Homo sapiens: one gene and its partners. The protein of the gene in region 1 interacts with the protein of each later gene in a pairwise test. Each region holds a gene or a part of one and is shown in the gene's direction. Other genes may lie near its edges.

Evidence for each region.
Region 2: the proteins of NUP58 (region 1) and PIGP interact in binary tests that used the Homo sapiens proteins (3 or more experiments, as listed by UniProt).
Region 3: the proteins of NUP58 (region 1) and AKAP9 interact in binary tests that used the Homo sapiens proteins (3 or more experiments, as listed by UniProt).
Region 4: the proteins of NUP58 (region 1) and ASIC4 interact in binary tests that used the Homo sapiens proteins (3 or more experiments, as listed by UniProt).
Region 5: the proteins of NUP58 (region 1) and ARHGAP29 interact in binary tests that used the Homo sapiens proteins (3 or more experiments, as listed by UniProt).
Region 6: the proteins of NUP58 (region 1) and STAM interact in binary tests that used the Homo sapiens proteins (3 or more experiments, as listed by UniProt).
Region 7: the proteins of NUP58 (region 1) and BCAS2 interact in binary tests that used the Homo sapiens proteins (3 or more experiments, as listed by UniProt).

The regions. Positions count from the first base shown.
Region 1 is NC_000013.11:25,325,625-25,329,124, forward strand, and holds part of NUP58 (nucleoporin p58/p45), read left to right. Parts: intron 1-1,291; coding exon 1,292-1,410; intron 1,411-1,805; coding exon 1,806-1,888; intron 1,889-3,500. UniProt on the Homo sapiens protein: Component of the nuclear pore complex, a complex required for the trafficking across the nuclear membrane.
Region 2 is NC_000021.9:37,067,473-37,070,071, reverse strand, and holds part of PIGP (phosphatidylinositol N-acetylglucosaminyltransferase subunit P), read left to right. Parts: intron 1-447; coding exon 448-520; intron 521-2,599. UniProt on the Homo sapiens protein: Part of the glycosylphosphatidylinositol-N-acetylglucosaminyltransferase (GPI-GnT) complex that catalyzes the transfer of N-acetylglucosamine from UDP-N-acetylglucosamine to phosphatidylinositol and participates in the first step of GPI biosynthesis.
Region 3 is NC_000007.14:92,003,362-92,006,861, forward strand, and holds part of AKAP9 (A-kinase anchor protein 9), read left to right. Parts: intron 1-3,500. UniProt on the Homo sapiens protein: Scaffolding protein that assembles several protein kinases and phosphatases on the centrosome and Golgi apparatus. Required to maintain the integrity of the Golgi apparatus. Required for microtubule nucleation at the cis-side of the Golgi apparatus.
Region 4 is NC_000002.12:219,513,225-219,517,481, forward strand, and holds the start of ASIC4 (acid-sensing ion channel 4), read left to right. Parts: upstream 1-1,500; coding exon 1,501-2,082; intron 2,083-3,471; exon of another isoform or gene 3,472-3,862; intron 3,863-3,980; exon of another isoform or gene 3,981-4,044; intron 4,045-4,257. UniProt on the Homo sapiens protein: Does not exhibit measurable stand-alone pH-gated sodium channel activity but may form pH-gated heterotrimeric sodium channels. Its activity could also depend on alternative gating mechanisms.
Region 5 is NC_000001.11:94,227,585-94,231,084, reverse strand, and holds part of ARHGAP29 (rho GTPase-activating protein 29), read left to right. Parts: intron 1-3,500. UniProt on the Homo sapiens protein: GTPase activator for the Rho-type GTPases by converting them to an inactive GDP-bound state. Has strong activity toward RHOA, and weaker activity toward RAC1 and CDC42. May act as a specific effector of RAP2A to regulate Rho.
Region 6 is NC_000010.11:17,710,151-17,713,650, forward strand, and holds part of STAM (signal transducing adapter molecule 1), read left to right. Parts: intron 1-3,118; coding exon of another isoform or gene 3,119-3,230; exon of another isoform or gene 3,231-3,500. UniProt on the Homo sapiens protein: Involved in intracellular signal transduction mediated by cytokines and growth factors. Upon IL-2 and GM-CSL stimulation, it plays a role in signaling leading to DNA synthesis and MYC induction. May also play a role in T-cell development.
Region 7 is NC_000001.11:114,567,057-114,569,336, reverse strand, and holds the end of BCAS2 (pre-mRNA-splicing factor SPF27), read left to right. Parts: intron 1-1,080; coding exon 1,081-1,207; 3' UTR 1,208-1,780; downstream 1,781-2,280. UniProt on the Homo sapiens protein: Required for pre-mRNA splicing as component of the activated spliceosome. Component of the PRP19-CDC5L complex that forms an integral part of the spliceosome and is required for activating pre-mRNA splicing.

The DNA.
Region 1 (3,500 bases):
TCACAAGATCTCTGTAGCTGTTGTTATTCCAGTTTTAGCGATAAAGAGACTGAGGTATGCAAAAGTGAGTTGAGTGGTGGAGGTCTGTTTGATTCCTGGTCCCTCACAATTAATTAATTAACTTGTAGAGATGCCATTTCACAGTGTTGCCTAGGCTGGTCCTAGGCTAAAGTGATTCTCCCGCCTCAGACTCCTAAAGTGCTGGGATTACAGATGTGAGCCACCACGCCTGGCCCCTTACTTATTTTATTCTTTTAGTTTTTTATTATAATTTTGGTCTACAGAAAAGTTTCAAGATGAGAACTAAAAATTCCTGTATGCCTTTCATTCCAATTTCCTACATATTAACATTTTTACCATATTTTTGTTCCTCACATTCTATGTGTGTATATACATTTCTCCCCCAAACAGTTTGGGTTATTTGCAGAAATAATGTTCACTATGCTAAAGTACTTCAGTGGATATTTCTTAAAAATAAGGATATTCTCATACTTAACAGTTCTCAAAATCAGGAAATTCATAATGCCCATGATATTCGTCTTACTCAGGTTGGCATGAGATGTGCTTCCTCACTGGACTTCCTCTACTATTTTATCCCTCTGTCTTGTACTTAATACTGCCATCAGAGCTAATTTTGCAAAATGCATTCATGGTTGCCCATTGTTTACTGAAAGACATTCAGATTCCTCTGTATACTATTCAAGATACCTTCTTTTTTTTTTTTTATCTGTCTAGCACTCTCTGTGGGTAAATTTATTAGAAAAGTAGCAATAATTACATGTGCTTTCTGTAGTATACTATGGTGTTCTCAGATTATAAATTTCATTGATAAAATGACTATAAATTCTTAATTCTGAAATCTGGTTGGTAGACGTTTCTACTTTATTTTAAATTTATTTTAACCTTACAGAAAACTTCCAAAATAGTAGTACAGAGAATTTATTTATATCGCTTCCCTTGCTTCCCCTAATGTTAACTTATAACTATAGTATAATTACCAAGAACAGGAAACTAAAATTGTTACAATATTATTAACTAAACTACTAAACTTACTGAAATTCAACCAGTTTTTCCACTAGTGTACTTCTGTTTCAGCATCCTATTTGGGATTCACAGTGCATTTGTAATTTCTCCTTAATATCTTCCAGTCACAGTTATTCAGTCCTTCCTTTCCTTGGATAACCTTGATACTTTTGAAGACTATTAAATGATTGCAGAATATTCCTTAATTTGGATTTGTCACTCCAAATTAAAAAAATATTTGATCTGACTTTTTAAATGTTTTTTAAAGCTACTTCAGAATCTTGGTTCAGCAATTTGAGGTACAGCTTCAGCAGTACAGGCAGCAGATTGAAGAACTAGAAAACCATCTTGCCACTCAAGCAAATAATTCACATATAACCCCTCAAGGTAACATGCTTACTGTGGTAATTTTTTTTGAACTTTTGTTTGTAGGAGATAGATGTGGTTATATAATAGGTATTTTGGATAACTACTGGTAGCCCCTTTAAGAAAATTTCCTTAAAAGTCATTTACTACTCCTTTATTCCCTATAAATATAATATGCTTTATTATATGAATTGTTACTGTGGTAACAAGGACAGAAATCTTAGGGCCTTCCCCCCAGATTTCTTTTGTAGACATTCAGTCTGCTACTCTGTGTGTTCTCTGGCCATGAGAACGTTGATAGAGTTTTTTTCTCCTACACGTTAACTGTGCCAAAAATTGGACTCAAATAGAAAAATAAAATGGATTGTGCTATATATATGTATATATTTGGGTGATAATGTAATTTTCTTTTATAGATTTGTCAATGGCTATGCAGAAAATTTATCAAACATTTGTAGCTTTAGCGGCACAACTTCAGTCTATTCATGAAAATGTAAAGGTAAGTTTTCATTACCCATTTATCTACCTGGATATGTAGACCCAAGTATTTGTTCATCTGGGGACAAATGTGTCCATGCTTGATACAGAAATAGCTAAAATTACATATAAGTGAAAAGATGAAAACTACTATAATCCATAACATACCCAGACATAACGATTGATAATACCTGTTCTTTTAAAAAAGATCCAAGTACGCTGTAGTCTGTTATTATAACTTTTTTTTAAGCAGTGCATTGTGAATAACTTTCTATGTTAATACACATATTTCCTGAATATCATTTTTAATAGTTAACATAGGAGTTTGTTGTATGGTTGTACATTGTTTAACCCATTTTCTGTTGGATATTTAGGTGGTTTCTATTTCTTTACTACTATAAATAGCACTATAGAAAATAGGCATTCTTAGTCAGGCACAGTGGCTTACACCTGTAATCCCAGCACTTTGGGAGGCCGAGGCGGGCGAATCACAAAGTCAGGAGTTCAAGACCAGCCTGGCCAATATGGTGAAACCCCGTCTCTACTAAAATTACAAAAATTAGCCGGGTATGGTGGCGGGCACTTGTAGTCCCAGCTACCTGGGAGGCTGAGGCAGGAGAATCGCTTGAACCCAGGAGGTGGAGGTTGCAGTGAGCCGAGATCACACCACTGCACTCCAGCCTGGGCAACAGAGCAAGATTCCATCTCAAAAAAAAAGAAAATAAGCATTCTTAGTAGCAAATGATTTTGTACTACCTTAATTTTATCTGTTTTAAGTGTTTATTGGCCACTGCATTAAAAACCGGCTTACAGCATTTCTCCCTTTTAAATACAGGGAACTGTTTGTGTTTATTAAATAGTGTAAATAAAATGATTTATCACTGAATATTTAGACTGACTCTCGCTTTTTTTTTTTTTTTTTTGAGACAGACTCTTGCTCTGTCGCCCAGGCTGGAGTTCAGTGGCATGATCTTGGTTCACTGCAACCTCCACCTCCTGGGTTCAAGTGATTCTCATGCCTCAGCCTCCTGAATAGCTGGGACTACAGGCACGTGCCACCATGCCTGGCTAATTTTTTGTATTTTTAGTAGAGACAGGGTTTTGCCATGTTGCACAGGCTGGTCTCGAACTACTAAATTCAGGCAATCCTCCCTCCTCGGCCTCCCAAAGTGCTAGGATTTATGGGCATGAGCCACTGCACCCAGCCTGAATATTTTGACTCTCATAATAACGTTAGTTTTAAAAATGTATTTAAGTGAAATGTTCAAGGTAAGTACATCTTTTCTAACTAACTGAGCAAATGTAATTAAACTCTTTAATCTTGGAGTGTATGTGGTCCAAAATACCTTTAAAATTCAAGCAGCGAAACCTGAGTCTAGATAAATTATCAACTGTGTAGAATAGAGTTTAATTGGAATTATCAACATTTTCATTTTTATTTTGATTTCATGCATAGTAACAGGATTTTTTTAAGTAAACCATTTAAATTACACCATTTTTGAAATGGTAGTGCACTTTAGACCTTTTGCTTTAGTAGATTTAAAACTGTAACCCAAATCTTTAAATTTTGTTCTAAAGGAGGAATTTTATCAGATTTAAAAAAATTCTATTAGTCTATAATAAATGTTACTTTA
Region 2 (2,599 bases), on another chromosome or scaffold:
AAATAACATTGTACTCTGGGAGATAGGGCAGAAGCTCAGTATGTGGTGGATGAGAACTAGGGTAGGTAAATTTCCCTTTGAGCAATTAAATGTCTATAATTACTTCAACCTTGTGGGGATGAAGTATTGAACACTTACTGTACCTAAAGCAAACTGCTAGGTAATAAGGATTACAACAATTGCTAAGCCATGATTTGTATCCTTGAATTGCTTAAAATATAATGTGAGTTAAGATATTAAAAAAAAAGACTAATACAGTAATTATAAGTATTATAAGAATTGTGCAAACGAGCTAGAAGAACTGAAAGGAGGAAAAAATCATTTCTGAGTTAATCAGGGACACTTCAAAAGAGCTTTTCTGTTTTATCTGAATCTTAATAGATTGATAGATTAGATGTATGTCTTACTGACTTCTCTTCCTCTTTTTTTTCTTTTTCTTTTCTACAGTACTTTACCTCGTGTGGGCCTTTATTCCTGAATCTTGGCTAAACTCTTTAGGTTTAACCTATTGGCCTCAAAAGTAAGTTTAATATATTTCTTAAATGAGGATATAATTAATGCTGTTTTGAGGAGTCATATCATTTCTTAAACCTACCCAAATCTTAAATATTTGTTCTCTTAAAATTCATGAATAGCCATATAGAAATTGAAAGCTTTTTAAAGATCGCTATTGATACATCTCTAATTAAAGATGGTAGCATGAACACACATGTTTATCTCCATCCATTTCCTCCAAAAATCTTGTTAAAATGACCCTACAGGAAAAAAAAAAAAAACTGAAGATACAAACCACAGAAACAATAGTATAGCAGAAAAGAGATATCAACCACATTTTGGAAAGTGGATTGTGATAGGTGAGAGGTAACTGCCTTTGTTTCTGTGATTTTCACGTTGCTGAAGTAGGGAAGCCAGCAAGAATATTTGTGCCTTAGAACTCCAGAATAGCTCAGACATTGGGGTACCAGGTAGCTCTTTAATTCTGGGTTGAACTGAAAACATGTTTAAAGACCATATGAAGTCTTCAGCCTTCAAATCTCCCTCAGCCCTCAAAGCTGGGAGGCCTGCCCTGCCCTCCCCTGCAGAAAACAGGAGTTTTACTCTCTGGCAAGGTTAAGTAAGAGTCTCTAGCATGGGGGCCACTAAGTCTGAGTGTGGGAATGCGGCATCTTACTGAAAACAGGGAAGTAAGTGAAAATCTACATGGCTTAATGAGAAGATTTACCTCCTGCTCCATCTTCCCTCTTGGGGCTTCGAGGCTTATATCACCCTACTGCTCACAGAAAAAGATAGATAGTTCTTTCCTGAGGAAGCTGACCAGCCCGAGAGAAAGGATCTATAATTTCTGACATTTAGAGGACCCCAGTGAAGTGGCCAAGTCTCTCAGAGTGAGGCTCACCAGTTGACCATCCCTGCCCACATACACATAGTGCTTCCAACTCACTTGTTAGCACTTCATTTTTAAATATGAATGGACTACTCTAAGTTACCAGACATTAAAAGAAAGCCTCTAGCATGAAATGAAAAAGCAGAAAATTAAAGGGAATTTGAAGGAAATAGAGATAATGCAGGAAACAGAAAAAAAAATTTAAATAACATAAAATTCTCAGAGGTAAGAAACAATTATAACTATGAAACAAGAACAGAATGCTATGCAAACAGGAAATTACTGTATTTGGAAATTGTAAACATGATAACCAAAATTAAAATTTTAATTGAAAGACTGGAAAATAAAACAAAGGTAATCTCTAGAAGTTAGAACAAAAAAAAATGAAAATATAAGAAAGTATAATCGTTAAAAATTCAAACTATTAGAAGTTCCAGAAAGAGAAAATAATAGAGAACAAATCATTTAAAAAAAAAAAAACATCTGGCCAACATCTCAAGACCCCATTTCTACAAAAAAATTAAAAATTAGCCAGGTGTGGTGGTGTGTGCCTATAGTCCCAGCTACTTGCAGGGCTGAAGTGAGCTCAGCAGATTGAGGCTAGTGATCTGTGATCATGCCGTTGCACTCCAGCCTGGGTGACAGAGGGAAATGCTTTCTCAAAAAGAAAAAAAAAACACTCAATGAAAAATAGCACTCCATGTACATAATGATACTGAGAGGCATAATAGAGTCCTATCAGAGAATTTGAGGCTCTGGTATTGGTGGATTCCTGGGAAACCAAGTGAACAGACAAAAAGATGTAATTATTCCAGAAAAAAAAAAGTTGTACAAGAAAATATATAATAATAATGTACTAAGATCCTCAGTTGCAAAATTGTTTATGTAGGTACAATTATTTCTAAAACCTGCTGCTATAATGAGAAATTGCAATGTAAGTATAGAAGAGGATAGGAGGAGGTTAATTCCTTATCTCCATATTAGGAAGCCTAGAGAAAATGTCTGTAATGGAAAAAAATGAGGAAATAGTAATATGAGCATGTTTTGTAGCAATGAGGAGGTAAGTACCAGAAGACAGCTCAAGTGCTCAAAGCATTTCTTTTTGGAGAGTGAGACCCCAGGGTTGGGATGGTGGGATAGAGGACTGCAGTTTTTCACTGTAAGCCTTGTGGAACTATTTGTCTCTTATGTACACATATTACTTTATAAAATTTA
Region 3 (3,500 bases), on another chromosome or scaffold:
ATTTTAACTTGAGCCTATCATTTATTTATCATTTAAGTACTTTTTTTTTTAAACCATTGTTGCCTTTCTTTCAGTTAATCTATCTTGTATATTCTGCTCAGGAAATAAAACACTAATGGATTCAGATTTTCTTTGGAAAGACAAGAGTTTGTATAACTTTATGGAGAATCTCAGCATTAGAAAAGTTATTAATTTCATTTTGTAATTTTTGTTATAATCTCAAAGATTGGTTTCAGCGTTTTTATTTCATAGTGATGTTTTCAAGTCTCTACAACTGAAAATGAACTCCTAAGCTTTTTAATAGTCTCTATAGTTGTTAGGTGGTTATGAAATTATATTTTCCTGGGAGAAAAAAAAACCTTTGATTTAAGTCCTAGAGTTTTTTCAGAGTCTTTATTATACCTGAAGGGGAAAAAACAGTATTAACTCTAAATATAGTTAAAGAATTATATGTATATAATAATAGATCACTCCTGATAATTTATATTTGCCAGATACTGATATTAAAATAACAGGAAAATTCTGCTATCTACAATGTAATGGTGCTAACTAAAGTTTTATGTGTTTCTTCATTTTTCTAACATATTTATTGACTCTCTTGGCAAGTACGAATATAGTGGCCAACAAGAGAGAGGTTTCTGGTCTCAAAGAGCATATATTTTAGTGAGGGAGGCAGATGATAAATGAAACAAGTAGGATAGTGAGAAATAGTGATAAATTCTCTGAAGAAATAAAACAGGATAATGTGATAGGGAATGATGGAATTATTTCTGAGGGCTCTGTTCTGTTCCATTGGTCTATATCTCTGTTTTGGTACCAGTACCATGCTGTTTTGGTTACTGTAGCCTTGTAGTATAGTTTGAAGTCAGGTAGCGTGATGCCTCCAGCTTTGTTCTCTTGGCTTAGGATTGACTTGGCAATGTGGGCTCTTTTTTGGTTCCTTATGAACTTTAAAGTAGTTTTTTCCAATTCTGTGAAGAAAGTCATTTCTGTGAAGAAAGTCATTCCTGATGGGAATGGCATTGAATCTATAAATTACCTTGGGCAGTATGGCCATTTTCACAATATTGATTCTTCCTATCCATGAGCATGGAATGTTCTTCCATTTGTTTGTATCCTCTTTTATTTCGTTGAGCAGTCGTTTGTAGTTCTCCTTGAAGAGGCCCTTCATATCCCTTGTAAGTTGGATTCCTAGGTATTTTATTCTCATTGAAGCAATTGTGAATGGGAGTTCACTCATGATTTGGCTCTCTGTTCGTCTGTTGTTGGTGTATAAGAATGCTTGTGATTTTTGCACATTGATTTTGTATCCTGAGACTTTGCTGAAGTTGCTTATCAGCTTAAGGAGATTTTGGGCTGAGACGATGGGGTTTTCTAGATATACAATCACGTCATCTGCAAACAGGGACAATTTGACTTCCTCTTTTCCTAATTGAATACCCTTTATTTCTTTCTCCTGCCTGATTTCCCTGGCCAGAACTTCCAACACTATGTTGAATAGGAGTGGTGAGAGAGGGCATCCCTGTCTTGTGCCAGTTTTCAAAGGGAATGCTTCCGGTTTTTGTCCATTCAGTATGATATTGGCTGTGGGTTTGTCATAAATAGCTCTTACTATTTTGAGATATGCCCCATCAGTACCTAATTTATTGAGAGTTTTTAGCATGAAGTGCTGTTGAATTTTGTCCAAGGCCTTTTCTGCATCTATTGAGATAATCATGTGGTTTTTGTCTTTGGTTCTGTTTATATGCTGGATTACACTTACTGATTTGCGTATGTTGAACCAGCCTTGCATCCCAGGGATGAAGCCCACTTGATCATGGTGGATGAGCTTTCTGATGTGCTGCTGCATTTGGTTTGCCAGTATTTTATTGAGGATTTTTGCATCGATGTTCATCAGGATATTGGGAATGTTGGAGAGGGTAGTAACAACATTAAATATGGTGGTCAGGAAACATCTCTAGGAGGAATTGACATTTGAGCTGAAATCTGAATGACATTGAAATTAGAGCAATTGTAAAGACACGGGTAAGTTTAAAGAACAGAATGAAGGCTTGTGTAGTTGAGTTTGAGAGAGCGGGAGAGTGGAAGAAGAGTTTGAAGGAGGAAGAGACCAGACCTTGGAGAATCTTGCAGACTTTGGAAGCCATTGGAAAGTTTTCTCTTTTTATTCCTAAATATATCATATTTATGATCTTATATCAAATGTCGAGATATTTTATATTTATGATTTATATCAAATGTAGAGATATTTTATATATTTACTTGCCTAAATAGAGTCAAGAAATTCGAATTGCTTAACGATTTTTTTGTTTGTTTGTTTTTGAGACCGAGTCTCACTCTGTCACCCGGGCTGGAGTGCAGTGGCGTGATCTCAGCTCACTACAACCTCCGCCTCCCGGGTTCAATCAATTCTCCTGCCTCAGCCTCCTGAGTAGCTGGGATTACAGGCATGCACCACCACCACGCCTGGGTAATTTTTGTATTTTTAGTAGAGACAAGGTTTCACCATGTTGGCCAGTTTGGTCTCAAACTCCTGACCTTAGGTGATCCAACAGCCTCGGCCTCCCAAAGTGCTGGGATTACAGGCGTGAGCCACCATGCCTGGCCAAATTGCTTAACTGTTAATGTTCTGTTAAATGTCTGGAATTGTTTTCAAAACCAAAATGTATGGCAGTTACTTGTGAAAATGTCACACATCTTTTAAAATTTTTTAGGAAGCATTTTTGGGAGAAGACCTGAATTTGACCCTCAGATGGTCAAATTTTCTTATTAGGAATTCTAATTTTCTTTTTCTTTTTCTTTTTTTTTTGAGACAGGCTCTCACTGCCGTCCAGGCTAGAGTCTCATGGCGCAATCACAGCATCCTGCAGCCTTGACCTCCTGGACTCAGGTGATCCTCTCACCTCAGCCTCCTGAGTAGCTAGTATTACAGGCATGCACCACACACCCAGCTAGGTTTTTGTATTTTTTGTAGAGACAGGGATTTGCCATGTTGCCCAGGCTGGTCTCAAACTTCTGGGCTTAAATGATCTTCTTGCCTTGGCCTCCTGAAATGCTGGGATTACAGGCATGAGTCTTTGTCACCAGCCAGAATTCTATTTTCTGTACTAAAGAGATACTAAAAAGATACTTTTGATGGCATTCAGATTCCCTCTATTTGACATTGACTACATAAAGTAAAGCCTGTAAACTTCCTGCCCGTTCATCATTACCAAGACAAACCTTTATTGATGGGAAGGGAAGTTCACAGAAGAAATCGAGCAGTGACTTACACAATAGTAACACCTAAGAGCAGCCTAAATATGCTTGAAATAATGTGGATGCCACACAGATATCTCTAATACACTTAGGTAGTTTGGGCAGAAGGAGAAAAATAAAAACATCATAGAAGTCTTTTCAGTGTTGGGATGCAAGGAAGAAGGAAGAGTGGCAGGAATTTTTTAGATACTGATTAATTATTGATGCTGGGAGAGGTCATAGATTGAAGTGTATGTGTTTAA
Region 4 (4,257 bases), on another chromosome or scaffold:
ATTAATCAGCCCCCCTTTCCTCCCGGGGACAAGGGCTTCCTCCCCCGTGAGGGCACATGCTGTCGGATGGGGCCCCAGAGCACAAGCACTGATTCTTGCCACCCCCACCCTGGGGGCATGGATGCATCCCCTCCTGGCCAGTCAACTGAGGCTCCCACCCCCACCTATGATGATGGCCCACATGCCTGTTCCCCTCCACGAGAACACAGCAGACCCCTTAGGGCTCTCCTGCCCCACTCTGCCAGGCACCCCTCAAACCCCTTTCTTTAGGAGAGCATTCGCTCCCATTGACGCCCAGCACATCTTCCTGCTCCCTTCCACGCCCCCACTGGGGCTCTTCCTCTCCCTCCATTGCATGCCCTGTCCCCCTACATATAGAGCACCCCGGAAGCACACCTCCCCTTTGCTCCCTGGCTTGCTTACCCAACAGCCCTCCCCCGAAGCCTGGTTGTGGCAAGGGATTTGGGGAACATTTGGGGAAGCAAAGTGGCCACAGATATGCAAGCTGGCCAGGGTGCTGTCTGTCCCAGACATATGAATGACTGAGATTGGGGTTGGGGGCAAAATGAGGGTGAGGGCAGCCAGCCTCCCAGAGGGGGCAGGGGCATGGTGGGTGTTGAAGTCTGGAGCAAAGCTCCAGGGAAGCTGAGAATCTTGAAGTCACAGTTGTCCCCTGGTCTGTCTAGCCTGCCCTCCTCTGCCCCCCTCCCTCCGTCATTCAAACAAGTGGCTCTCTCAAGGAGTTTCTGGAAGCTGCTGTGAGTCGGGTAGTGGGATCAGGTGGTGGCTGGGTGCTGGAGTCAGGAGTCTCAGAGGCCAGGAGGTGGGGGGATAGAGTTGGCTGACCCTTCATGGGGTGTGGGCCAGGAAAGTGGCAAAGAATGAGCTGAGGACCCTGGGCACGGCACCCTTCCCTGGGTGGCCAGGAAGTGGGGAGATCTGGGGACCCAGTGAGCGGCTAGGGTGCAGCAGGAGTTTGGGGGATAGCCCCAGTCTTGGGATCTCTGTCCTGGGCTGGGGACTGCCCCCTCCCCTGGCCTGGCTCCTGACGCCCGTGCTGCCGGTGAAACGCTGTTGACATGTCCTGAATTATTAAGCGTGGGGAGGGCTCCGGAGCACATGCTGAGCGGAGCGGCTGGGGCTGCGCGGCGTGGCGGAGCAGCGCTCGCTCCCTCGCTCACTCGCTCGCTCGCAGGGACACACGCAGGGGCTGACAGCTGTGCTGGTGCTGATAAGGGAAGCCACAAGGAGACGATCGAGGAGAGAGACAAGCGGCAGCAGAGGCAGCAGCGGCAGAGGCAGCACCAGGGCTGCGGAGCTGCTGGGAGTGGGAGTGACTCCCCCACCTCGGGCCCCCACCCTGTCCCTGTCCTCTTCCCGCTTGCCCTGAGTTTAGAAGAGCAGCCGCTGCCACCACTGCCACTCGGGAGGGCACCAGGGCTGCTGGCTAGGGAGGGACAGGGCAGGGAGGCTCTGGCCAGTCCCAGCAGCCGGGGACAGATGCCGATCGAGATTGTGTGCAAAATCAAATTTGCTGAGGAGGATGCGAAACCCAAGGAGAAGGAGGCAGGGGATGAGCAGAGCCTCCTCGGGGCTGTTGCCCCTGGAGCAGCCCCCCGAGACCTGGCCACCTTTGCCAGCACCAGCACCCTGCATGGACTGGGCCGGGCCTGTGGCCCAGGCCCCCACGGACTGCGCAGAACCCTGTGGGCACTGGCCCTACTCACCTCGCTGGCTGCCTTCCTGTACCAGGCGGCTGGCCTGGCCCGGGGCTACCTGACCCGGCCTCACCTGGTGGCAATGGACCCCGCTGCCCCAGCCCCAGTGGCGGGCTTCCCGGCTGTCACCCTCTGCAATATCAACCGCTTCCGGCATTCGGCACTCAGCGATGCCGACATCTTCCACCTGGCCAATCTGACAGGGCTGCCCCCCAAAGACCGGGATGGGCACCGTGCGGCTGGCCTGCGCTACCCAGAGCCTGACATGGTAGACATCCTCAACCGCACTGGCCACCAGCTCGCCGACATGCTTAAGAGCTGCAACTTCAGTGGGCATCACTGCTCCGCCAGCAACTTCTCTGTGGTGAGTTCTGCCAGCTGGGCTGCCTGGCCTTGGATGGCCGGAGGCTGGGGAGTGGGGAGGAGTGGTGGCAGTGGTGTACAGGGGCATCCTCAACAGGGCTTCCCTTCATTCCACCACCAGAGGCTGGCCTCGTGTTTCCCCAAGCCTGGCGTCTCCCTCTGGCTTCCCAGCCATGGAGCAGTGGCCGCTCATAGGGGCTTACCCTGGGGCGCCTGCTGCTCCTCTTCTTGGTTTTGCTGCTGCTGCAGTGCCCAGGTCTGGGAGTTGGGGTGGGGGTTCCTAGGCATGGGCCCAGGTGTCCTGGAGCTGGCTGGCTTGCAGGGAACGCACGCACCATCCCAAGGCCAGACCAACTGACTCTCACTTTTCTCTTGCTCCCTTTTTCTTCTGAGGCTACTGGATTCTTCCCACCAAACGAAGGAGATAGGGAGGGGAGGTTTGGGGGGCTCCATCTAGGGAAGGACCCCGGGTGGCCTCCTGGGGAGCTGGCCTGGTGGGCAGGCTGGAGAGACCCGGTCTTCAGGACACTGGGTGCCAGTGTCTCTTCTGGATCTCTGTGTGTCTCTCACATGCCTGCCTCACAGACTCCCTCACACATCCCTCTTTCATTCTGCCCTCCAGCCCTCCTGGGGTCCAGTCCCCCTCTGTCTCCTGTTCTAGCGGCTCCCATGCCCAGCTCTGGCTCTTACACTGGGAATCACTGGTTCACTCTTATGTGCATAACTCACCCTCACTGCTGCCCCAGCACGGGTGCATGCACACATGCACACGCACACACGCACACGCACTGCTGGGGGACACAGTTTCCTGCACACTCCCTCTCTCACTCACTGTCCCTGTCACTACACTCACATGCACACCTGCACACCCACACCCAGAGAGCTACTCATCTCCATGTCTAGCTCCCAGCTCTCGCTTAGCTGCCAAGGACAGGGTCCCACTGTGGATGCCATCCCTTCTCATGACACCCCCACCCCCATCTATCCCAACCGCTGCTCCCCATTTGGAGACTGCTGGCGCCATCTGTCACCTACGTGTGAGCACAAACACAAGCACCCTCTCCGGGAGAGGGGTGTGAGCTTGGGCTGCTCTGCCATGCACGCCTCCCACAGTCAGGTATGTGAGGGGGTGGGCGTGTCTTGTACACTGCCTGTCTGTCAGGGCTCCATTCACCCATAGTCACAGGGTATCTAGTATTCATGGCGCTCGAGATGCTTGTCCCTAGTCCACAGTTTGCTCCCAGCATTGTGTGTGCATGCGTGTATGTTTCATCCTCGTTGCCACTGCCCAGTGCATATGCAAATGTTTGGCGTCAACATGGTGCCCACTCCAGCCCAGCCTCCAGCAGCCAGCCCCAGTGATAGGGACCCCCGCCAGGTTCTCACTCACCCGCTGCCTCAGGATCACCAGGAAACATGCTCCAGCCAACGAGGTTCCTGGCCCCCACCATGCCTGCAGTGTCTGGGGCCTCCCGCCATTGGGCAGGGGAGTTAGGTAGAAATAGAGGGACAGGAGCAGGAGCATTGTGCAGGGAGAAGAGTCGGGGGCATTGGCCTGTTGTCCGGCTGTACACCCCCTTTCCTAGGGAAAAGCACTGCTCCCCAAAGCAAGGGTTGGTAGAGTCCCCGAGGAGGAGGTGGGATATGGAGGGTGAGTGTGGCCTTTGGGATCCATAGGGCTCTGCTGTCCTCAATCCTCACCACTCCGTATTGGGAGCTGGGCAGAGCTCAGTCTTAGCAGGTGCTGTTGGGACAGAAATCAATGGGATCTTTGTGTCCCCGAGCGGGAGTTGGGGGTGGGCAGGAAAGGGGAAGGGTGATGAGACCTCAGTGAGAGGAAAGGAGAGGAAGAGCTGGAGGGGGTGAGGAAGTAAGGGGAGGGAGGCAGAGGGTTCTGCTTGGTCTCCAGGCTAGGAGGCGGTGCCTGGAGGATACAGGAACGGGGATCCTCTGATCAAGGCTGGTGAGTCCCCGGAATCCTGGGGATGGCCTGGAGGAGTGTGGGTGGATTTCCCACAGGCCCTCTGGTACCCTGGGGCTGGAGAAAGGAGGATGGTAGAAGTCCGTGGGCTGAGGTTCTGGCCCTGGTGCAGGACAGTGGGGGTAGAGGGCATAGCTAGCATTGGGGGACAGGAATTCCCCTTTGGGATTTCCATTTCCCCTGTCTCCAGCCCAG
Region 5 (3,500 bases), on another chromosome or scaffold:
CATTGATTGGTCTTAAATAAGCTGACTAATGTTTATAATTTACATTGTTGACACTGTTACCTAAATTCACCTTTCCACATTTTAGATGAAGTTTTGGTATCTAAAATGACTGCATTTTTTTTTTTTAACAAAAATCAGACTTAATTCTGTTTTGCTGATCTGTAACATCTTGAATTAAGGGCTAATCACAGAATTCTGTCTAGTTAGAAATGAATAATGGAGCATGAGACTCTGTTCCTCTAAAGTAAAAGATTGTATATCTCTGACTTGTTCTTAGTACCTGTCTTTCAATGTTTAGTGCCTCTTAGGTCTAAATTTGATGGCAAGGATAATAAATAGTTACAAAAACAGCTCCTATTCTTCTATGATAAATGGCAGTTTCATTTCCATATTCATAATGGTATGTCTAGATATAAAAATGAAGATTCTCAGTGTTATTTATATGAGACCTCTTGGGGCTTTATAGAAATTTGTAAGATTTCAATAAATATTTCTATGTATATATATAAGTTAAATACTTATTTTCTGATGGACATTTTGAAAAACCAAAATTGTATCTTGTGCTTGTACTAAATTTAAGAGTTAATTTCTAATCTGTTATTTTCAGGTTGAAATGCCCAAAATGACTGGAATTGAAGCCTCAAAGTTTTAGTATTTGAGTTTTCCTTAAAACAACAATCACATAAGTGATTCTTTTGAGAATGTATACATATTAGAAAAGTTGTTCATATTCCCATTCATTTTAATAGCTTGATTTTGAAGTCTGATTGTGGATGATTAAATGGCAGTAAAGTTACCTAAAGTTATTGTGGAAAGATATCCTAACTACATTAAGTATTATAATGGTAGTAAATTTACCAAAATGATAAATTTGCCATTTATTTAAAGAAACATAGCTTTGTAATAACAATTTGTTCTTAACTAGGTTAATTTTTTAAATTTATAAACAATAAAATGTATACTTCTTGATATGCAGTTCATTAACTGGATTGATTTTTAAGGTGAAATTTAAAGTGATGTATTAGTTGACAAGTCATTTACCTTGATTTAAGGTGTAAAACCTGATTTTATTTAATGCCTCAATTTAAATGCATTTTTATTAGTATAAATAAGATTTTTAGTTAAGATTTCTATTTGTTTTTAGTTATTTTCCTTAAAAGATTTATATCTCTTAAAAATCTTCATTTTACATAATTATCCTTGTGTCACAGATTTAAAATGATAGTAATTTAAAACAAGCTGGACTACTTATCTCCAAAAAAAATTTTTATAAGAGTTTTAAATTGTGAGCAGACACTTCAGAGAATACTGAAGGTCAACTGAAAGTTGACCCTAAGTGAGAAAAGAAAAAAATAAGATACAGAAAGAGACTACCCCCTGAGGTAAAGGGATATGTATGGAAATACATACACTGAAATTTAATTTTAAAAATTCATAAGGACATTATCAAAAAGTTTGCAATTTATGGCCAGGAAATTAATTACAAAATAGATAAACTGTTTTTTTGATAACCAACTCAGTAGTATGCAGTGGCCAGAGGATGTTCATTATTTACCTTTGGGTTGATTTTTTGTCTTTGAAATATCGTTATCAAAATCTAGAAATAAACTAGTTAATTTGAGTTGATGGAACCTTTTTGTTTTATAAACATAAATGGACCTCATTATAAAAGATAAGGAAAATGCTACATAATATTGTGCTTGTTTTTAATTTTGATGATTTTCAGCTTAGAGTATCAGACTATTCCTTATTTACTTAATAAAAGTATTACAAAGATCTCATGAGATGTAATCTTTAGGAAAGGTAAAATGTTTAAAATGCTCTAACTATTTAAGATGGTATTATTACATGTATCCCTATAGTCATGAGCCCTGCTTTTTGTCTCTGGGTATTGAGAAATATCCCTGGACTTCTTTTCTGAGTTATCACCACAACGTTAAAGTGTGGCCAGACAGCAAAGAGCCATTTCATTCACTGTTTTTCTTTTAGAGTGGAAGAGCCTTGTCAGTAATTTCTCAGTAGCCCTCCCAATATTTTGTGTATTGTCTCCTTAAGAGGAAGATGCCATATTTTTGGCATTGTTTATTACCTTTTAATTCACGTTTGTTAAGCTAAAAAGGCAGCTCTTAAGAATAAAGAATGTAGATATACAATTAAATCATCTTTTGGTTTAGTCAGAATACATTTTTTCTGTAATAACTTTTATCTGTTAATACCTTTATTACTAACTGAAGCACTAATGTGCAGTCACTTGACTTTTGCCGCAGTTGTTTAATCATAGGTTGAGGCTAGTCTTAGATAAACAGCTTTGTGATTGGTTTATGGCCACATTTTACTTTCCCCAAGTAGTTAGAAATGATGTATAATTGTATATGGCGCTTTTCATTTTACAGAGTACTTTGTCATACAAACAAGTTTAATCACCCAGGCCCCTCAAAGGCAGGTACCTTTAGCTCCGTTTCACAGATGAGATGTATGTATAACTTTTGATTTCATCAATGTCTTATTGCTGATAAATAATGGCCAGGTTATATGGTTTGGTTAAATTGGTAGTAAAGGATGGCAGCAAAAGCTCTGAAAAGAGAATCAGAATCTAGGTTCTAGGCCTAGTTCTACTGACTAGCTTTGGAATATGGCTTAATTCATTTAATTTTTTGTTAAGAATGAGGCACTTGTACCAGATGCTATCAGTTTTACGAATCTGTGATTCAAAATTTGATTAGAGTTGGAGATTATACATTGTTCTGAATGTTGGCAGTTTATTCCTAAGAAGACAGCTAAGTATTTGTTTTCAAATTATATGAAAACAAATTAATGAAAATTTCCCAAGTGAGAATATGAAGCTCATATTGTAATCGTCATTGAGGAACTGATTAGAAAAAATATAAATGTCTGCCAAAGAGCTCTGTACTCCCAACAGGGTTAAGATACATATACGGTTTATCTCTAATTTTCTAATTTACAAATTAAAATAGAGAGCTTAATGTGGAAGATTAGAGGGCTGAAAATATTCTATTCTTGCTGGGGTAAGTTAAGTGACAGAGTTTGGTAATTCTCTTTCCACTACTTAACCTCCAGGAGGAGGTTACCTTGTAGTCTTATACAAGTAGCAGATGTGGAATTTGAAGTTTTAGTTTTTTTATCCAGTGTCATTAAGGTACATTAGGAGTAATTACAAGGTAAATGTTCTATCTTATATGAAAATGCTGAAGGCACTCAGTTATGCATATGCATGTTGTGTTTAATTATAACACTGTAGATTAATATATGTGCAGTGTAAGTACCAATTCAGGTTTATGGTTTCCTCCCTGTGGAATAACGTGTTCTAAATTCTAAATAACAGATTCATAAGTGCTTTTCAAGTTTATGTAATAATTTTTAAAGTCTGCCATTGTGACATACCTCCCCATTTTCATGTGGAATATCACTCAAGGAAGCTAAAATCTGGGAATGTGGAAAATGTAAAGGCCTTTTAATTGGGCTAGAAAGAATAGTATAAA
Region 6 (3,500 bases), on another chromosome or scaffold:
GCCACTTTTCCCCTGCTAGTCCTCTGTTTGACTATGTCACATGCTGCTCTACCTTCCTTGTTACTAGAGATTACTTGAGACTCATTCTTCAAGGTCGGGGCCTTGGGAAATTATCCTTGTGAATGAGATAACCTGTTGGTAGGTGCTTTAACAGTGAAGTTCTGTAGCGCTGTGGTACCCTGCTGCTGTTCTCTGTGTGTGACTCTGCTTCTGCATTCGGGATGTGAAATCCCTGGCATAGGCCCAACCCTACCCATAGAGTGTAGCTATTAATGTCACCTCTCAAGGAACACATGTTTATTTCAACAGGTGTCTTTTGAAGAACATTTTCTTGAAATATTTAGCCCTCTCGTCCTGGCTCATTCCTGCATATTCTTTAGTTGTTAGCTTAGCTGCATTTTTACTGGGACATCTTCCTTGCTTTTCCACCTCTCAGCACTGTTCCTCCTGTGTGCTGTCAGAGGACTGTGTGTGTACTTCCGTTTCCTGGCTGGTAGTTGCCTTTTTACTTGTTTGTATCCCCACTGAAGACAGTATCTTGAGAGCTGGCACTGTCTTTCACCTCTATAGCCATCCTATGTAGCACACAGTTTTACACTGGCTAGGAACTCAGTAAATATTTTATGAATACATGTTTTAGTGTTAATGACAATTTCAAGTGCTATATTAGACCAGTTAGGTGTATTTTTTAAAAATTCCTTGCAAAGGCTTCACAAAGGCTTAGAGGCCATTTAAATATCTATATATAAAGGTACAATATGTAATATCTGTTTATCAATATATAAAAACAGATGTGTGTTTGTGTGTTTCAACGGGGAAATGAGGAATTGCTGGTAGAGCAAATGTAGGATGAGGAAATTGGAAGGAGCGAGGGCCAGGGTTAGAAATTTCCTTACTAGAGGTGTCCTGCGTATTTGACTCGAGCTTTCTAGCGGCAAATCAAGGTCAGTGAGGATTGTTGTTGTTTTTGGTAGGCAGGTTTTTTAGCACTCCTCAGTTTATATATATCTGAGAGGCTATCTCTTGTTACATAAAATTTTGGTGTTAAAGCTCACTGTTTTTCAGACTTCTGTCATCCTAGGACAGTCTTATTGTTAGTTGGGGAAGGTGTCACTGATGACGGTTTTCTAAAGCTACCTGTAGCGATGGTAGTATTATAAGGTGATAATAAGTGACAATTACTGTTAGTATTTTGAGACCACTGAAGCTTATGTATTTATTTGTCTCTGATTTTAGTTTACTACAGTCAGCATGTGCCAGGCACTGTGTTAGACACCTGAGAGTCTTCTTTAGCTTCAAGGTGCTTACTGAGTAGTAGGGGCAAACACATAAAAAAATATAATTTTATACAACATGATTTATAAATAAAGAAGATATATGCCTTGTACCTTAGGAGCCTCAGGGTTTGAGGAAGTTTTCCAAGAGGGTTATTCTTAGCCAGTAGAAAAAAAGTGAGGAAGATGTTCTGTCACGTCAGAGATGTGGTAGCCTGGAATGGCATGGTACCCATGGAGTGAGCAAAGATGGGAGGTGTGAAAGGCGTGGTATGTATCGGCATTCCAGCAGCACACTTACCAAGGGTTGAAAGCGTGTAGGGGAGCAGCGAGAGACATACTTGAAGACACTGCCAAGGTCGAAGAATGCTTGTTCTAGATACCATCTTAGGGATAATGAAAAAGTTCAGAAAGGGCTTTAAATGGCAGTAGCGTAGATGGATTCATAGGGGCAAGATTAGAAGCTGGGAGACCATGGATATTAGGCAAGAAATTATGAGTATTTGTTGGCAAGATACAGTGCTATTAATTGGAAAGAGTTATTTAGGAGATTAGCAAATAATTACACATTGGGTGACATGGTTGGGAGACAGCTCAGTGCAGAGATAAGAGAAAGAAGTATTGGTGAATTGCATGGTTTTGCCCCAGGCAACTGGGTGGACGGTGGAACTGTAAATTGAGAATGATTACAATAATGCTAACATTTAAGGGGTATTTAGTATGTTCCAAGCACTGTGCTGTATGCTTTACACAAAGTAACTTATTCCTCATAATAACCTGTGAAGTCGGTAAACTATTACCCCCATTTTATAGATGGGGAAGCTGAGACCTGGAGACAAAACGGAAGTCCCACTTAGCTAAGATTCTAAACCAGACATTCTGACTCCAGAACCCAGCGCATAGACTCTATATTACGGCAATATTATAGCCCATACCATTGTCAATAATAGTATGAAATTTGACATCTCCTAATCAACTTTATATCTCACACATATGGAGTGATGACAAATAATGCCTTAGGTCACCACATTAGTTGGAGAAATGTAGCATTAAATTACCGTCTCTTATAATAAATTACCATCAAATAATGAATTTGTGCCAAGTACAAGAGCACTGAATTTCCCAACAATAGATTTATAAATAACAATTGGAGGAAAGTTTAGAAGTAGGCAGTATTTTGAAAATTTGGCAGTTGCTTTTTATATTGCTTGTTTTACATTTTTAATACAAATGTAGGGGGAATTCTCAGCATCTTAGTACTTCTCTTCACATAGCTAACCTAGTGTCTTACAGTGGAAACGCATGTATTCCGTTGGAAACAGGAAGACAGGAAGTAGAGGCAGTGGATAAAGACAACCCTTTGAAGAATTTTTTTCTTTCTTTTTTTAATGGGAGCAGTGCACAAGTGCAGGGACTTGAGATGGGAGTACTGGCAGCGGAGCGGTGGGAGCGGTAGGGAAGCTCAGTACGTGAGGGGTGCAGCTGCAGAGAGTTGATCAGTGTGGTGTTGGAGCGTGTGCTTCCGTATTTTCAAGGAAATAAAAGAAATGAGGTTATGAGGCCTTCCCTTCCACTAGTCCTTTGGGACCGTTCTTGTCAAGAACCCTGGTGATGCCCATACTGCTAGACTCCCGGTCAGTTCACCATTCTCCTCCTCCTCCATTTGACAGTTCGTGATTCCCTCCTCTTTTCTGAAATGCTTTCTTCACTTGCTGGTGACCATTCTCTTTTCCCTTCTGCCTCACCGCCACTTCTTCTCAGCCTCATTTGCCTCTTGCCTCTTTATCTTCTGGACTTCAAGGTCCAGTGCACAGTAGATGGACTGCCTTTTTCTCTGTTTGCAGCCGCTCCCCAGGGGACCTCATGAAGCCCGGTGATTCTGAATGCCGTGGATCTGCCGAGGATTCCCAGATGCGTATTTCTCCTCCGTACTTCCCCACAGGACAGCAGGCTTGAATAGCTGATTGCCTATGCAGGACAACAGGCTTGAATAGCTGACTGCCTATGCATTCTCTTTGCTTGCCAGTTTTTTGGACATCAAACTTGACAGATCCAAGATTATTACTTTGATCTTCCCCACACCCCTCCCACCCCCGAGTCTACTATGGTCCCATCATAGTATTCTGAAAATCAGTGAATGGCCACTCTACCAGTTATTTCTACCAGTTTTTAGGTTCTAAACCTCAGGCATTCTGGACTCTTCTGTTCATTATCATATTTTGAAGG
Region 7 (2,280 bases), on another chromosome or scaffold:
GCCATTCCCTTTCTCCCTTCATTACTCAAGTCATTCTTGTTCCACCGTCTCCATGTACGTCTTACCAGTCTCGTTGGTACCCTTTCACGCTTTTTCCTCAATTTAATAAACTATTGCCTCTTTCCTTTTTGTTGATTAAATACTATCTTCATCACTCTTTCCTCTTTCTTCTGGTTTGCAAGTTCTCTCATCTGTTTCTAATTTGCTTTTTTATTAAACTTTTATTTTTAGATAATTATAGATTCACATGCAATTGTAAGAAATAATACAGAGAGCCAGGTGTGGTGACTCACATTGTAATCCTAGTGCCTTGGTAGGCCAAGGTAGGAGGATTGCTTGAAGCCAGGAGTTCAAGCCAGCCTGGGCAACATAACGAGACCCTGTCTCTACAAAAAAATGCTTTTAAATGAGCCAGGCATGATGGCATGCACCTGTAGTCTAAGCTCTTCAGGAGGCTGAGGTTGGAGGATTGCTTGAGCTCAGGAGTTCCAGGCTAGTGAGCTGTGATCACACCACTGCATTTCAGCCTAGGCAACAGAGCAAGACCCTGTCTCTGGAAAAAAAAAAAAAAAAAAAAAAAAGAATACAGAGAGATTCCATGTACCCTTTACCTACTTTTCCACAATTGTGCCTTGATTTTTTTTTAATGGAAAGTTGAAAGTGAAGGTTAGGCCAGGCATGGTAGCTCATGCCTGTAATCCCAGCACATTAGGAGACCGAGGTGGGTGGATCACCTGGGGTCAGGAGTTTGAGACCAGCCTGGCCAACGTGGTGAAACCCCATCTCTACTAAAAATACAAAAAAGTAGCCAGCTGTGGTGGCGTGTGCCTGTAATCCAGCTACTCGGGAGGCTGAGTCAGGAGAATCCCTTGAACCCGGGAGGCGGAGGTTGCAGTGAGCTGAGGTTGCGCCATTGTTCTCCAGCCTGGGCAACAAGAGCGAGACTCCGTCTCAAAAAAAAAAAAAAAGTGAAGGTTAGTGTTATAGCTCTGGGTGAACATGTGTATACATTTAAAATAAAATCTTCTAAGAGAAGTTTTACATTGAGTAATTTTTTTCTTTTCTTCCCCCCCATTCTAGTTGGGTATCCCTGGTCAGTAAGAATTATGAGATTGAACGGACTATTGTTCAGCTAGAAAATGAAATCTATCAAATTAAGCAGCAACATGGAGAGGCAAACAAAGAAAACATCCGGCAAGACTTCTGAAAAGACAATTTAGCAGGTAGAAGAAAAGTTGGGCTTTCACAAAAGGCATCTGAACTTTTAATGAACTTTGAAGGACAACAGCATCTTCCCAAAACCATTGATGTTTAAGTGTTTAGAAATCATAGAAGGTGTAGGCTGCTGTGGTAATTCTATTTGTATATCTCAACAGAATTAAAATGTCTAGCTTGGTGGTATTTTTATAGCCATAAAAGAAAATCTTTAGGCTTTCAAAATAAGGATGACTTTAGAATAATATTGTGTCATAGAATTAATTTTCAGCCATGTGGACCATATTTTGTATCCAAGGATCCTTATTTAAAGCTTTCAACATGTACAGGAAGTTGGAAATTTTTGGTTTATGACTTTGTCTAATAAAGAGATAGTTCTAAACACATTCTTGATCACCAAACAACTTCAGAAAGACAGTGACTGTACAGTTATCATTATCATCATCATCGTCATCATCATAGGTAACAGTTATATCAAGCTTAATATGTGCTGAACATTGTTCTGAACACTTTAGGTAGATGAACTAGATGTATGTGAATAAAAATTATTTGGTCCTCACAAAAACCTCAGGAGGCGGTTACTGTTTTTCTCATATGTGGACATGTAACAGACACCAGTTAAATAACATAACTTGCCAGAGTTTTATAGCTGAAAGTGTCAGCTTTTTTATAGAAAGTTGTCAGTCAGGTTTTGAACCCAATAGTCCAGCTCCAGAGTTAATGTTCTTACTTCTCTACTTGTAAGGAATTAAATTGTGTAAAAGATTCCTGCCCAATTCAGAAAAAATATTTGCAACATATCAAAAGGTAGTGTTGCTAGGTGTGGTGGCTCACGTCTGTAATCCCAGTGCTTTGAGAGGCTGAGGCAGGAGGATCACTTGTGTCCAGGAGTTCAAGGCCACCATAAGCTATGATTGTGACACTGCACGCCAGCCTGGGTGACAGAGCAAGACCCTGTCTCAAACGAAGCAAGGTAGTCTTAATGTATAAAGACTGACTGAAAATTATTGCAAGGTCAGTGGCTCACACCTGTAATCCCAGCACTTTGGGAAGCTGAGGTGGGCA